2 linked regions of the Homo sapiens genome follow. The main gene of each other region encodes a partner of the protein of the gene in region 2 in a complex. Each region holds a gene or a part of one and is shown on either strand. Other genes may lie near its edges. A codon is read from its position in the direction of its gene.

Region 1 (7,194 bases), on a different chromosome or scaffold from region 2:
CAAGGCCTGATCCCCTTCTACATGGGGTTCATCCCCGGTGAGTAGAGTGGGCAGGGTCACATGGACACACCCCGGCCAATGTGGGGAGGGACGGCTCTACCTGCTCACCCTTCATTGCTGGTTCAGGACCACCTGTCTGACCATTACCAGGGTCCCACCTTGGTTGGGGTAGGATTGTCTGCCATCCTCCCTACCCCTTTTGGAAGGGGGGTCACTGGACCCACCTAAGTCCCAGACACAGGCCGAGCCCCAAGGTTGGGTACCTGGAACAGGACAGGCCTGCCTTCAACAAGCAAGTTCCCCACCAAGCAGATACCCAGGGCCCAGGGCAGCCCCACACTTCTCTGAAGCCTGGGTGTCCAGCCCATGCTGGTCCTGGGCACATAAGCCCAGCTCAGCTGCAGCCTGGCTCCCCGCAGCCATGCAGGACAACTACGCCCTGACATTCGGCAACAGCACCCGGAGGGCCTACTGGAAGGAATGGGCAAAGCGAAACCACACACTATGAAAATGCTTTAATGGTGGTGTCTGTACAGCATGGATGTGGACAGGGAAAACAGCAAGTGCACACAGTGGGACAGGCCACAGGACAGGCTGGGAGTGAATAAAGAGTTCACACTGCTTCCCTGCTTTCCCCAGTGACTGAAGGCTCTAGGCCACCTCCTCCTCAGCCTCCTCCTCGAACTCGCCCTCCTCCTCGGCTGTGGCATCCTGGTACTGCTGGTACTCGGACACCAGGTCATTCATGTTGCTCTCGGCCTCGGTGAACTCCATCTCGTCCATGCCCTCGCCCGTGTACCAGTGCAGGAAGGCCTTGCGCCGGAACATGGCCGTGAACTGCTCGGAGATGCGCTTGAACAGCTCCTGGATGGCCGTGCTGTTGCCAATGAAGGTGGCGGACATTTTTAGCCCCCGAGGTGGGATGTCACAGACAGCCGTTTTCACATTGTTGGGGATCCACTCAACAAAATAGCTGCTGTTTTTGTTTTGGACATTAAGCATTTGCTCATCCACCTCCTTCATGGACATGCGGCCCCTGAACACGGCGGCAACCGTCAGGTAGCGGCCATGGCGGGGGTCGCAGGCAGCCATCATGTTCTTGGCATCAAACATCTGCTGGGTGAGCTCGGGCACGGTCAGCGCCCGGTACTGCTGGCTGCCCCGGCTGGTCAGTGGGGCAAAGCCGGGCATGAAGAAGTGCAGCCGGGGAAACGGGACCATGTTCACAGCCAGCTTCCGCAGGTCAGCATTGAGCTGGCCTGGGAAGCGCAGGCAGGTGGTGACCCCACTCATGGTAGCAGACACCAGGTGGTTCAGGTCACCATAGGTGGGCGTGGTCAGCTTTAGGGTTCTGAAGCAAATGTCGTAGAGAGCTTCGTTATCAATGCAGTAGGTCTCGTCTGTGTTTTCTACGAGCTGGTGGACTGAGAGGGTGGCGTTGTAGGGCTCCACCACTGTGTCTGACACTTTGGGCGAAGGCACCACACTAAACGTGTTCATGATCCTGTCTGGGTACTCCTCCCGGATCTTGCTGATGAGGAGGGTACCCATCCCAGACCCAGTCCCCCCACCCAGGGAGTGGGTCAGCTGGAAACCCTGCAGGCAGTCACAGCTCTCAGCCTCCTTTCTCACAACATCCAGCACCGAGTCCACCAGCTCCGCGCCTTCTGTGTAGTGCCCCTTGGCCCAGTTGTTCCCAGCACCACTCTGACCTGTGAGAGAACACAGCTAATCATTTGTCAGCCAGGTAGACAGCACTACTGGTCACCGCCATGCGAAAAAAGCCGAGTGACATGGTGTGAGCTGACCACAGAATTCACCCTGGAGGTAGAGCAAACGGACCCTTCAAAGCCAAAAGACGGCAGCCTGCCCTGCTACGAATTAAGTCAGGGGCCAAACCTGACAGCTTAACAAACCCCTCCCCGGGGGGGCCACTGCCAATTCCCAAGGACAGAGGAACAGCCACTGCCCCAGCTCAGCTCCCTGCAGGGAGATTACGTGTGTGGCGGCTCCTCGCCTCGGCAGACAGCTGGACCTTGCTCCCAAAGCCGATTTAGTAGAGGGGATTGAGTGGCTCAGAGAAGAGGAGGGCGTCCAGGGGCCCCGGCTGCGCAGTTCCCACGGCGGTGCCCTTGGAGCAGCCCCTTGACCTTTGAGCCGCCGCCCAGTCCCCAGCCACGGCTCACCGAAAACGAAGTTGTCCGGCCGGAAGATCTGCCCGAAGGGCCCCGAGCGCACGGAGTCCATGGTGCCGGGCTCCAGATCCACGAGCACGGCGCGGGGCACGTACTTGCCGCCTGCGGGGACGGGAGGGCGTCAGCCAAGGCAGGGGCCGCGGGGTCCCCGGAGGGCGGTCGGGGAAGGGGCCGGGGCCTCACCGGTGGCCTCATTGTAGTACACGTTGATGCGTTCCAGCTGCAGGTCGCTGTCCCCGTGGTAGGTGCCCGTGGGGTCGATGCCGTGCTCATCGCTGATCACCTCCCAAAACTACAAGGGACGCGGGCGGGCCCGGGCGGGCCGGGGCTGAGTCACCGCGGCCGGTGCGCAGGGAGGCAGCCCCGCCCCGGACGGGCGCGGCAGCCCGGCCCTCCCCGCCCCTCCCCCGCCCCGCGCGCCCTGGCCGCCGGGTTCCTGGGGGCTTCGGTCGCCCGGCTCGGCCAATTCCCCGCGGAGGGGGCCCGGCGGCCGCAATGCGGGGGCGCCGCCCGGCCGCTGCTGCCGCCATCTTCCCCGGCCGCCCGCCCACACCGCCCGGCAGGCCCGCCTGGCCCCAGCGCCCCGGCAACTTACCTTGGCGCCGATTTGGTTGCCGCACTGCCCGGCCTGCAAGTGCACGATTTCCCTCATGATGGCGGCGGCGGCGGCGGGGAAGCAGGAGGAAGTAGACAAACAGCAGCAGAAGAGCGGGCGCGCAGAGTGCTACAACCGACGCTCCGCCAACGCTTATATACCCTCCCTGCCCGCCTCCGCTAGTCTCGGAATGGGCTGCCAGAACGAGGCTGGCAAGCTCCCTCGTTTGATTGGCCTTGCCCCCGTCAATCAAGCTGCCTAAGGTCCGCCTTTTTAAGCCAGTTTGGTCTTTATTGGTCAGCCGCAGCCTCCTATCTCCCTATCACAATCCCCCTCCTGGCGCCGCAGTGCTCCGTCCATTGGGTGTTTCAAATGATTGATTTGCCGTCTCATTGGCTGGCTGCCGGGAGCACGCCGCCAGGCTGGCGCTATTGGCTGCGCTGCTTCAGCGTCCTGGTAACCGCCGCAGTGCCGCGGCCGGCGCGCGGACGGGGTGGGGCGCAGGCGCGAGTGCGGGCTTCCGGTCGGGCGGCGGGCAGCTGCGCTGGGGGCGCCGAGGGAGGGCGGGCCCGACGGGCCTCGGGCAAGCGCAGTCTTGGCTCTGAGCCCGGGGCCTTTCGGGAGCCGGGAAGGGCAGGCTCGGTGGCGGCCCCACGTCCAGAGTTGCGCCCTCTCTGGCCTTGCGCCGGGACACGGCATCTGCGCGCTGGGCGGGTTCTGGAGCGGGGTCCGCACGGAGCGAGCCCGGGGCCTCCAGGCCGAGGAGGCTGCGATGCCTTAAAGGCAGGAAGATACACGGGCTCGGGGGCTGCGGCGGTGGAGGGGAGCTCTCCACAGAGCCGCAGAGGCCACGGAGTTTCCTGCTCCCGGGTGCCGCACGCCCACTGCCCTCGCGGTCGCGTGAGGGGAGCACGTGGGGGACGCCGCGCCCCGAGGGCCGGGGCGGAGGGCAGGGGAGGGGAGCGGAGGGGCGAGGCCTCCCCCGCAGCTGCGCGCCCTGCCCTGTTGTGGAGACGGCGCTGGCTCTGCGCCGGTCGCCTTGGTGCCTCGGCCCCGTGAGTGCGCGAGCTCCGTGGAGACCAGGACAGCGCCCAGACCTCCCTCGGCGGGTGGGCCCCGACCTCCGGGCTCCAGGGCCGGTATTCCAACCACAGGTCAGCGCGCTGGGGCTGAAACATACTTCTGTTAATGCTTTTCCTAATTTATGACTTGATTTTTACTTGGGTGGGAAAAGAAACTTAAAATGAATTACATGTGGTTGCGCCTGTTTAAAAACAAACGGGCTGTATTTTTGCAGCATTTTTATTTTACTTAATTTATTATTCTGAGACAGAGTCTCGCTCTGTCTCCCGGGCTGGAGTGCAGTGGCGCGATCTTGGCTCCCCGCCCCCCCCCAGGTTCAAGCGATTCTTCTGCCTCAGCCTCCCCAGTAGGTGGGACTGCAGGCACCCACCACCACGCCGCTAATTTTTGTATTTTTGGTAGAAATGGGATTTCACCATGTTGGCCAAGCTGGTCTGAAACTCCTGACCTCAAGTGATCCGCCCGCCTCGGCCTCCCCAAGTGCTCGGATTTACGGGAATGAGCCGCCGTGCCTTCTACATTTTTGTAGCTTTTTTCTTTTTTTTTTGAGATGGAGTTTTGCTCTTGTCGCCTAGGCTGGAGTGCAGTGGCGCAATCTCAGCTCGCTGCAACCTCTGCCTCCCCGGTTCAAGCAATTCGCCTGCCTCACCTTCCCAAGTAGCTGGAACTACAGGTGTGCACCACCACGCCTGGCTATTTTTTTTTTTTTTTTTTTTTGAGACAGAGTCTGGCTCCGTCGCTCAGGCTGGAGTGCAGTGGCATGATCTCGGCTCACTGCAACCTCCATCTCCCGGGTTCAAGCGATTCTCCTGCCTCAGCCTCCCGAGTAGCTGGGATTACAGGCGCCCGCCACCACGCCCGGCTAATTTCTGTATTTTTAATAGAGATGGGGTTTCACCATCTTGGCCAGGCTGGTCTGGAACTGACCTTGTGATTCATTCGCCTCGGCCTCCCAAAGTGCTGGGATTACAGGCATGAGCCACTGCACCTGGCTGTATTTTTGTAGCATTTTAAATAAATTACACCATCAGGTCGGCCCTGACAGTCTCCTGTGCTCTGGCCACTGGGCATCTGTCTCCCAATTGGAGGCTGTTGGAAACAACATCTGCTTATTTATTTCTCTCTTCCTGGAGGGACTGCACCTCTGTCTTCACCACATAATGCGCGATACCAGAACTCGGGACACGCAGCACCGGAGCATGCGCGGGGATCAGCATTGTCCTTCTGGGGCGAGGGCCTGCAGCTGTGCTCACTCCTCGGGGGTCTGTTGCCAGTTTGCCATCCTGTCCAGGAGGGTGGCCTCCCCCACAGATCAGCCCAGGAAGGCGGGCCTGGCTTCCAGTGACCACTGTGACACAGGCCTTGACCCTCAGAGGGACTGGGGTCCTGCAGCGGCCTGAGGGGTGCACAGGTTGCTGCCAGCCATCCCAGGTTTCTCCTAGTGCCCAGGGCATCCTGGGGTCCTGCAGAGTAGCTCAGCTGTCCAGGCAGTAGTCAGGGACATGTTGGAGTCTCATAACATTGAGTTGTCACAAAGGGGAGAAGGAGAAGCTCTGTTTTTTTCCTCAGTGAACTGTGCAGAGCCCAACTGAGGCTGCTCTTTGAGGTGTGTGGCATTCCTGCACCTTGTCAGAGTCTCCCAACCCCTCTCCAGTAAAGGCCCCTGCTTCCTGTGACCAGTGCCCACAGGGCTGGGAGGTCAGTGTGCCACCCGTTTCACAGGTGTCACCTGCCCAGGTGAGAGCCCCAGAGCTCGCCATGGCACCAGCTTGCCTACTTTGCCCTTGCATTGCCCTGGTGAGGTGGACACTGGCTGGGGACAAGACAGCAGTAGACACCCTGAAGCCTGGGCCTGAGCCCAACAAGGACAGCAGCCACCCCTGTTGCACAAAACTGGTTGGGGAAGGCTCTGTAGGTCCCACCCTGAGCCAAGGTGCCCTGCTGCAGGATGGAGAGGCGGGATAGTGTGGGGCAGGAGGACCAACTCCTGGGCCTGGGGTCTGTGGCCAGGCAGGATGTGGTCCAAGGAGGGCCAGAAGGGCAGGGAAGCGGGGCAGGCGTGGCTGTGGGAGTGCTGGGCACCTGCCCTCCTCCTCCTGCAGCTGTCGGAGGATCCACAACGAAGGCTCTGTTTACTGGTGGCCATGGTCCCAGTGGGAGGGTGTGTTACCGCCAGGCAGGGACAGCAGGCAGACAGTATTGGCTGCCTTAAAGGACCAGACGCCCAGCCTTTGTGGGAGGCCTCACCTGCCCTGGAAGGACAGGTGCATGGGGTGCTTCCTCCCTCTCTCCACAAGGGCCTCACTGATCCCCCCCCAAAGGACAGGGGAGCTCCCCGGCCCCTCAGGCTCCCCAGGGAGCTAGCCAGGCTTGTCCCCTACAGGGGTGCCAGACGGTTCTATGAGGCTGATGTCAGGTCCACAGGGGCGTCCTAGAATCACAGGGCTGTGAGAACCAAAGCTCTAGCTGCTGGGGGTCCCATTCTCACTGGAGCCCACCCCTGAGGCACCCCTGGCTCCCAGAGCAGGTGGTCACCTCCCTCGGTAGGTGAAACCAAGGCCCAGGAGGCCTAAGAGTTTGAGGGGTGGCTGGGGCAGAGGACCCAGGGAAGACTGGGGGCCAAGGGCACAGAGGGTCTGGGGGTCATGAGCAGGGGCAAAGGGAAACTGAGGGCAGAAAAGAACAGAGCCACAGAGGAGAAGTGGCCGTGGGGCCCCCTCAGGCCTCATCTTCCTGAGTGGCTGCACCTCTATCCCCTAGTGGGGTCTGACCAGGCAATCCTGGGAGGCTCTGGGAAGAGAGCTGCCCCCCAACAGGGCTGCAGTTCTGGAAGGGAGAACGTGACTGGCCACAGCAGCAGACTCAAATGAGCAAACTAGACCTGTCCCTGATGGGACCGTCCCCTCACCCACCCGTCTCTGTGTGCCTGAATGAATGCTCCAGTTCTGGGGTAACCCAAGGCTTTCTTCCCTTGGCGGGAGTGGGGGTTGGGTTAGGGCTGTGGGCAGCTCTGGGCTAGAGGTGGCAGGAGCCCCCCCTCAACTTCCTAGGTGTCCAGTTACCCATTGGCTGGCAGACAAGCCTTCCTGTGTGGAAACCCGACCACACAGCAGAGGGAGGGCCCCCTGGCCCCCAAGTCCTCCCCATGGGTGCTGTCCGCCCTCCTGGGCCCACCCCACGGACAGGCCTTCCCGGGACAGGGTCTCATTCTCCGTGGCAGTGGGAGGCCTCAGTGTGCCCCAGCCTGGCGGGTGAGACTGGCTTCCTGGTGGGTTCTGGGAGCTGAGCACCTGCCGTGGCCCAGCCCTGCAGAGAAGTGTC
Region 2 (8,137 bases):
TTGAGTGTAATGTCAACACTCAAAAAGTTTTGTATTTTGGACCACTTCAGGTTTCAGACTTTTGGAATAGGAATACTCAACCTTTAATATTAAAAAAATTATTTATTCCATTCCCCTAAACTTTGAGCATAAAGCATCTATAGTCTTTTGAGAAGGAAAGCTGTAATAGAAAGCTTAGGCTGAACTCAACTTCTCTGTCACCATAACCCTGGGTCGATTTTCTAACTTGCTTCGTGATAAGCTTGTTCAGCACAGAAAGTATCTGACAAGATAAAGACAACAAAATACTGGGTTACTAGTTTCTGGTCATGGGCTCTATCACACCCCAAACAAGACTTTTAAAGGAAAATGAACTATGAAATCTTCAAGTTGTGTATCTCATATCTCTTTATAGGCAAGCACTATAAAAATGTGAATTTGAATATTATTTCATTGCAGGGCTTTTGTGATGCTTGTTTTCTTATAGAATGCAACAAAAATTTCATGGAAAGAAAGTCTAGTTTCTATTGAAGAAAAATATTTGACATTGAGATTTTAAAAATTTTGCCATTTACATTTATCATTATTTTTTCAATAATCTTGCACTCTCATATCCAGATTGTTTAAATAAGCATTTCTGCTTGCACAGCCCATTTGATGAAACATATTTATTATCAAGTTTATGTACTTGTATCACTATCGCACTCAGAGAAATATCAGGAGTCTCTGTATAACTCCTTATGATATATACAGTTCTTCATGTTTTAGGTGGAAGAGCATTGGAATGTTGACTTATCTAACTGGAAAAGTGGTTTGGAGGGTGTTGGCTCTTGGAGCATGAGGTTGCAATTAAGAAAAGCTGGAAATTGGCATACACGTCCTGAATCAAAATACACCTTCAGAAAGAGATGAGGACATTTTCACCTTATAATGCTGAGAAGTCTATACTGCTAAAGATAAAAATGGTGAAATGTAAATATTGGTTATGAAATTGAAAATTTTTATTTCCTGTACCACTGAAGTTATTTTGTATAAACGGTATTGTCCAGCCTTCTTTTATCAAGATTTGAATGTTGTTATTTTGGTTTTCCTCGGAGTACTAAGGGCAGGGACTTTGCTTTGCTGATCCCAAATCCCCAGAACTGTGCTTAGCAAACACTGGGTATTAAAAAAAAAAAAAAGAGAGACAGTTGTTGACTGAATAAATAGATGAATGGATAAATAATGTTTGCATTTAAGAATTACGATTTCCAATGGCAAGAGAGGTATTGCTAGTACAAGATTTTCCTTTAGAACATAAAAAGAGAAGATAATGGATCTCAATTAAGTTGTTTATAAAGAAGCCTGCTTCATAATCAATGTTTTTTTTAAGTCATGTAGGCATACTTATTACATTTGGCAATACAGAAACATCAGATTTTGCAGAACTATCTCTTTAGGTGTAAGATTATATTAAAGAATTAATATGATACAAGAATTATGAATACAGGTTTAGGAAAAAACAGAAAAGAACCCCAACCAGTAAAAAAAAAATTAAAGTATAACATTAAAAAACATCAAAATTGTAAATATTGTGTAGAAGAAAAACTAAATGATTAACCTGAATGGTTATGGTATTGCTGATAAATGCATCATCTTGACTCCTAGGAGAACCAATTTATGTGAAATTCCATGAAAAAGAATTAGTTACAACAAGCAGAATTTTAGTCCATTTCCAAGAATTTTAACTACTGTAAATCACCTGACACACTTCCCAATAATTAGGATATCGTTTTGCATAGCCACATGGGAACCTGGCCTAGAGGTCTATAGGTAATCTGTTTCATTCATGTATTTTAAGTATGTCGTTTAGGAATAAGTTATCAGGTTTGCAACCTATAAGCAAAGGAAATAATGTGACACTGGAAAACAACACTATTCATTTAACATAATGAATTGCCATGTAATAACTCAGATCTTCCCAGGGTGTAAATTACACAAATTTGAAAGATGCATTTATTATTTAATGCCTCATTCCCAGACAGTTGCTTACTCAGTAGCAAAATCTGTCTTAGCATACCAAGTGTAAAGCTATTTAACAAATAGGAAGGTTTAAAAAATATATACTATCATGCAGACAGCTAAAATATTTGTATATATTTTTAATCTTTTTTCTCTAATGATACTTAGAATATTTTATTTTTATTACTACAAATAATAGAGATGAAATATGAATTGTATTAGTAGCAGAGATATATGAGCTAAAGCTTGTATTGTTTAAAGCACATCATCTTAAAAGGCCTGTCAGGAAACAGTGTTCATATTAAGTTGGCTTTCAGTACTCTAAGAAGATGACATCATTTTGTAAGAGACAAGTGTTGTTAGAGCAAATGCTAGGATATTCTAAAATTTCCTAGGTTGAAGTGAAGAAATTTCTCATTATAGATTATTTCATGAGTTTATGTTCCCGGTTGTATATCAGCTCATGTTAAATTTTGCAAGAGTTTATGATTTCTAAGAACTCACCTTCTATAAGGCCCTTTGCTGAGTGGGGCTAGTTAGGAATTAGTAAGTAAAGGGGATCTTTTTTCCTCGTGTAAATAGCTTAAGAGTAATTTTGGGCGGTCCAGAAACCATAAGTTATCAGGAAGGTGCTTATAAATGGGCAGAGTACATCACTTGCCCAAGATTCTAACAACCTAGCCTGCCCCCCACACACTGTGGGGCACCGTTTGCTACTTGCCAAGTAACTGCCTTTTTTGGCAAAGACCACCCAGGACATGGCTCAGAGTCCATCCTAAGGCTGGCCAACCTCTGTAAATCTCGTGTCCCCTGATTCAGAGCGAGTGCATTTAATTCAGGAAGATCACTTACGACTGAGTTTTTCATCATGGCTTTGACTGTGAAACCCTCAGAAACCAGAGAGTGAGGCTGGTGCACCGGGAGCGGCTGTTGTGCCAGCAGCTTGGTCCTCTTCGGCATCTTGTCTGGGCATTTGTTTAAGCTCAGGGTCTCTTTTTCTGCCACCATCTTCCTAGAAAATGTCTTGTTCTCATAAAAAGTGTAGTAAAAGAATCAGTGGGCTTTACGGATGTGAGCAGGAGGTCTGGAAAAAAATATCAAAAGGCGCGATAATGGTAGAAATTCAACCCCTCGTAGTGCCCAGGTTGATCCAGATGTTTGGCAGCTCCTAGGTGAAGGGAGCTGGACCCTAGGGGCGGGGCGGGAAGAGGGCAGGACCTTGGCTAGAGCTGCAACAAGCTTCCAAAGGTAAGCCTCCCGGTTGCTAAGCGACTGGTCAACACGGCGGGCGCATAGCCCCGCCCCCCGGTGACGTAAGATTGCTGGGCCTGAAGCCGGAAAGGGCGGCGGTGGGGGGCTGGGGGCAGGAGGCGTGAGGAGAAACTACGCGTTAGAACTACGACTCCCAGCAGGCCCTGGGCCGCGCCCTCCGCGCGTGCGCATTCCTAGGGCCGGGCGCGGGGGCGGGGAGGCCTGGAGGATTTAACCCAGGAGAGCCGCTGGTGGGAGGCGCGGCTGGCGCCGCTGCGCGCATGGGCCTGTTCCTGGCCCGCAGCCGCCACCTACCCAGTGACCATGATAGGTACGTGGGTACCTGCCAGGTACAGCCTCTCTGCGCCGCCCCACGCCCCGGTATGGCGCCACGCCCCGCCTCGGCCGACCAGGACCCCCGGTGCCAACTGTCAATGACGGGGCCAAAGTGCCCGTGCCGTCCCCGGCCCGCGCCGCCGGGCTCCCCAGCTCAGCGACGCGGGTCCGGGGCCCCAGTGTGTGCGTTCGAAGCCCTCGCCTGCCCGCCCCTGCTCTGAGCGTTCTCATGAAGACCGCCTCGACGGGGACGCCAGGCGGCCCCGCACCCCCGCTCCTCGTTCGCGGTCCCCCGGACCGTGTGGGGTCCCGAAGCCTTCTCCCCGCCGCCGCCCCTCACCTTCGCCCCGCCGCCGCCCCTCACCTTCGCCCCTCACCTCACTGGCCGGTTGTGGTGCGGTTCAGGACCCATCGAGACCCACTCTCTGTGGGGCTCTTTCAGGAAACCGCAGCAAAGCATTAAACTCTAATGGAAGGCACCTGGTGAGGGTGGCTGGCTCCACAGAAACTCCTCCAGATAGATCTAAACTTGCTCCCTCGGATGTTTCCTTTTAAACTTCTCATTGGAGGGCTGAGATGAAAGAAACATTAAGAGTAAATAGTAGCCAAGATTAAATCTATTGCCTTTTGCAAAATAACCTTTCTTTTTTTTTTTTGTAAAAGAACGACCGAGGTGCAAGTTTGTGAACGAAACTTAGTGGCATCAGAGTTGTTCATGAACACTTGATGTGTAAGATGAGCAAAGGTCCTCTCTTCCAGGGTTGTTGAGCCAAAAGTTACTTTAGGGGCTATCCCTGAAAATTAATGGAAATGCACCATATGTTTGAAAAACAGTGCTAGATGGGGTTTCATTATTGTGGAGGTTTCTCCAGGTTATGTATGGAGGGTTTAGTGAGCTTGTTTATTCCTGAGGAGGGTCCTTTACAAAACACTTTTGATTGCAGTAAGTACGTTCGAAGTCAGATGTGGTCTGTCCAGAAGAAAGATGAGAGGTGGATTTATAAAGTATATGATCTTTATGCACTGAAAACACTTCTTACATCTGTTTATTTGTGAAGTTATTGTTAAAATGTAAACATTCTCCCCATCAGTGGGAGAATCAAGCCAGCTAACTGGCATGGTCTTTGTGGTAAAACAAGAATGTTGTCCAACTTTTCTTCCCTTTCTAGCATGGTCTGACTTTTGGTGAATGACTTGAAAGTTAATCAAATTACGAAAAAAATATTTTTTATGAGTCTTCTTGAGCTCTTTTTAGGTGACATTTACGTAAGATTCACTTGCAAGCACAAGTTTGAACTGAATCAGAAAACCAAGTAGAAGAGATTTTCCAATATCTGTGCTGTCAGTCTACAGGAAGAAAATAGCCTATACCTTATTTTGAAGACAGTTAAATACATTTTATTTTAATTTAACTTAATCTAGTGCACAGATAATTTTAAGAGAAACAAATTTATTGTAAAGCTATATAAAGACAAGCACTTAAGATCTAAAGAACATTACTCAGTTATAAGTTATGACCTAATAAGTGATTATATAAATAACTTTATTAGGATGAAATGTGTTTGGACAGTTCTGTTTAGTTTTATCTGGAATTCTTCCAATAAGGAAGAAATATCTTTGGAGTTGATGATTAAACAGTTATCAATTACTGGTAATGACATGGAGAATATAAGGTTGGTTTTTAAAAGTGTTATTTCTCTCACTCCAGCCATGGTTTTACATAGTGCAAATAAGTGTGCAGTACAACATAAATGATTAAATCCATGCCTGCTTTCCCTAGGAAATGTGCCTTACATATAAGATCATGGACAATGTGCAATAAAATATTCAACTAGTTGCATTGCCTAATTCTGAAATTAGACACACGTCTTTTTTTTTTTTTTTTCCTCTTTTTGAGACAGGTTCTGTCTCTGTCACCCAGGCCGGAGTGCAGTGGCACCATCACAGCTCACTGCAGCCTCCAACTCCTGGGCTCAAGTGATCCTCCCATCTCAGCCTCCTGAGTAGCTGTGACTACAGGTGTGTGCCACCATGCCTGCCAATTTTTTGTTATAGTTTTTGTAGAGATGGAGTTTCATAATGTTGCCCAGGCTGGTCTCAAACTCCTGGGCTCAAGCAATCCTCCCGCATTCGCCTCTGAAAGTGCTGGGATTACAGGCATGAACCACCACGCCCAGCCTCATTAGCCACATTTCAGTAAACATCTGAATGGTCAGTTTGGGATTTGGGTGTCGTGAACAGTGCTAAAGGTAGGTGAAAGTGAAAACCATTAAAAGGAAGCCTTGGAGTGATGGGTTTTGTGTTTTTGTGACAAAAATTCAGAGCCAGGAAAGACATTATAGACTTTATCCAGTGATCACTAAAATGTAAATAGTATGTATCTGGGATTTTCTGTTAAAGGTAAGAGTGCTTCTCAAAGCTTGCTCCTTTCAGGCCTATGCTTTCTCTAACTATTACACTCACCTTGTTGCGGGATTCGGGAGTATGAGGGAGACCTCAGGTTGAAGCAGGAGAATCTTTATTGAGTGTACTCAGGCCCAGCTGACTCACATCCAAAAGACTGGGCCCAGAATAAAGACAGTACTTGACTTTTATACACACTTCACAAACGGAGGTGGGCTAGCTTGAAGCAAGCTTACAGTGGCGTGAAAGCAGGGATACAGAGGCAGGACAAAGACAGGATTGCAGATGACCATTGCCAAGCAACCCAGATGTTCGTTTTCTAGGTTTGCCTGGGCACAGGCTTATCCTATAACCTTCTCTGTGGTGCCCAGGCAGCTGTAGTTCAGGCCTACTCAGGCTTTTTATGACCTTCGTTGTACTACTTAGATAAAACAGAATACTTGAAATCACTAGTTACAGAGAACAAGAGTCTATAAACTCATTCTGTAAAACAAAGGAAAATTTGTTTTTCTTCTCCCTGTGTTGAGGGAGTGCTGAGAGAGTCTCCAGAGCATATTAGATAATATTATCAAGACTTTTCCTGGGTCTAGGCTGTGCCTGTTGCTGCTTCTGGAACAAGTTAGCCTAAAACAGGAAAACTTATTTCTCTTTCTTTTTAATTTTATTGTTCTTTAATTTCCCGCCTCAACCTTACTGCGAATAATATTCTGCCACTTTATTTAAATCCTGGCTTAGTTTAAGGAGAAACGTAAAGATGGGTTTCCTGGTAGAATAGGAGTAAACAGGACTGACTGTGACCTCACTGCTAATGACATGTACCTTCCTTTTACTTTCTCAAAACCGAAGATTCCCTTATTGGCATGAGGACTGTTTCAAAAGTACTTACATTTCCCACCTGCATTGTGATTGATGTGTTGAATGCCCTGACCCAGGCAGCTACAGAAACATAATTTAATTGAAGTCGGTTAAAAATTGTGCCTTTGTGGAAAGTGTGGAGAAGGACTTCAAGATGATATAAAGCAGAATAGAAAAGCTTAAAAGAATTCAATTTAGAAAAATGTAATTTTTGGTACCTCTATTAAAAATATATTTTGACTTTTTTAAAAATGAGCAATTCTTTGTGTTTAAAATGGAATGTTAGTGGGGATATTTGTGGTATGTTCTAAATGTTCTGTAGAACTGGATTTAGGTATTTGAGTAACAGCAGATATTAGAGTGCATGGTTATATATACAACAATGTTGTCAGTATTGAAATACACATTCAGTGTCTTAGACTTTTAAGAAGATTTTTGATTGACAAAAACCATTCATTGGAACATAGTCTCTTCTATACCTTGTTTCACTTAGCATCTCTTTGAGAATTTACATATCTGCATGTCCAGATCCACTCCACAGCGATTCCTGCCTAGTCTTTTATAGGATACACTAATTATGAAAATATTTACCAATAAATAAGCACTCATTAGGTTTACAGACAACTGTTGTCAGAAGTGTTTGTGGCCATATCTTTTTACTTGCACATGTAAGCATAGATGTAAAATAAAAATCGTATGACAATTTGAGTTAAAGAGTTTGTAGATTTTACATTTTCCTAGGTATTTCAAAATTTTTCCAAAATAAGTTGCCCAATTTTACAAGCCTATCTAAAGCCTCCACTAATACAACATGGTAGTAAAGAGCTGCCCTGCCCCTCTGGGCTGAAAATTGCCAAAAGACGTCCTTCCTGAGACTGACTCAGCTTTCACTAGCAGAACGCCTCCTGGATCTCCGGTCCCCCACCTCTCTCTCACCCTAGGGGTAGTGCCTTTCAGTGTACAAGCTGCACAACTGTCCTTGGTGGCCCTGCCCTCCCTTTCAGTGTGTATAAGAGTGCCCATTTCCTCCCATGTGCCATCGAAGATTTTTTATTTTTGCCGTCTTGACAGATGAAAAACAGTATCTTTTAACTTTTCAAATTAATTTAGAAGAAAACTTCTCATTCTCATCTTATAGTGCGTTAGTTTTGCAAAAGCAGATCCAGTGATTCCAGCACCTGCTATGTACCCTTAACTGCTCTAGGTGCCAGGGAAACGAGGGAACACAACAGAAAAAGTCCCTTGCCATCAGGAATGTATATTCCGACTTCACCATTTGGCTACACATCTGCATATTTGTTTTCAAGCTTGT

Evidence for each region. The genes of interacting proteins can lie anywhere in the genome.
Region 1: the proteins of PACRG (region 2) and TUBB4B are in contact, whole or in part, in a cryo-EM structure (PDB 7UNG), measured with the Homo sapiens proteins. Residues at the interface, in NP_689623.2 of Homo sapiens: Glu40, Gly41, Phe42, Thr43, Val44, Ala46, Met47, Met48, Val53, Arg54, Gly55, Pro56, Pro57, Ala58, Ala59, Gly60, Ala61, Phe62, Arg65, Lys154, Arg160, Arg162, Arg191, Gln192, Pro195, Asn198, Ile199, Phe200, Asn202, Met203; in NP_006079.1 of Homo sapiens: Glu194 (codon at 1,410), Phe260 (codon at 1,212), Pro261 (codon at 1,209), Arg262 (codon at 1,206), Gln291 (codon at 1,119), Phe294 (codon at 1,110), Asp295 (codon at 1,107), Ala296 (codon at 1,104), Arg306 (codon at 1,074), His307 (codon at 1,071), Gly308 (codon at 1,068), Arg309 (codon at 1,065), Tyr310 (codon at 1,062), Val333 (codon at 993), Lys336 (codon at 984), Asn337 (codon at 981), Ser339 (codon at 975), Tyr340 (codon at 972), Phe341 (codon at 969), Gln375 (codon at 867), Ser413 (codon at 753), Asn414 (codon at 750), Asp417 (codon at 741), Ser420 (codon at 732), Gln423 (codon at 723), Gln424 (codon at 720), Tyr425 (codon at 717), Gln426 (codon at 714), Asp427 (codon at 711), Glu432 (codon at 696).

The regions. Positions count from the first base shown.
Region 1 is NC_000009.12:137,237,014-137,244,207, reverse strand, and holds TUBB4B (tubulin beta-4B chain), read right to left. Parts: upstream 2,922-7,194; 5' UTR 2,848-2,921; coding exon 2,791-2,847; intron 2,488-2,790; coding exon 2,379-2,487; intron 2,298-2,378; coding exon 2,187-2,297; intron 1,713-2,186; coding exon 652-1,712; 3' UTR 509-651; downstream 1-508. Other genes in the region: CIMIP2A (ciliary microtubule inner protein 2A), read left to right, coding at 1-37, 420-508. UniProt on the Homo sapiens protein: Tubulin is the major constituent of microtubules, a cylinder consisting of laterally associated linear protofilaments composed of alpha- and beta-tubulin heterodimers.
Region 2 is NC_000006.12:162,723,087-162,731,223, reverse strand, and holds the start of PACRG (parkin coregulated gene protein), read right to left. Parts: upstream 3,251-8,137; 5' UTR 2,989-3,250; coding exon 2,833-2,988; intron 1-2,832. UniProt on the Homo sapiens protein: Microtubule inner protein (MIP) part of the dynein-decorated doublet microtubules (DMTs) in cilia axoneme, which is required for motile cilia beating. Suppresses cell death induced by accumulation of unfolded Pael receptor (Pael-R, a substrate of Parkin).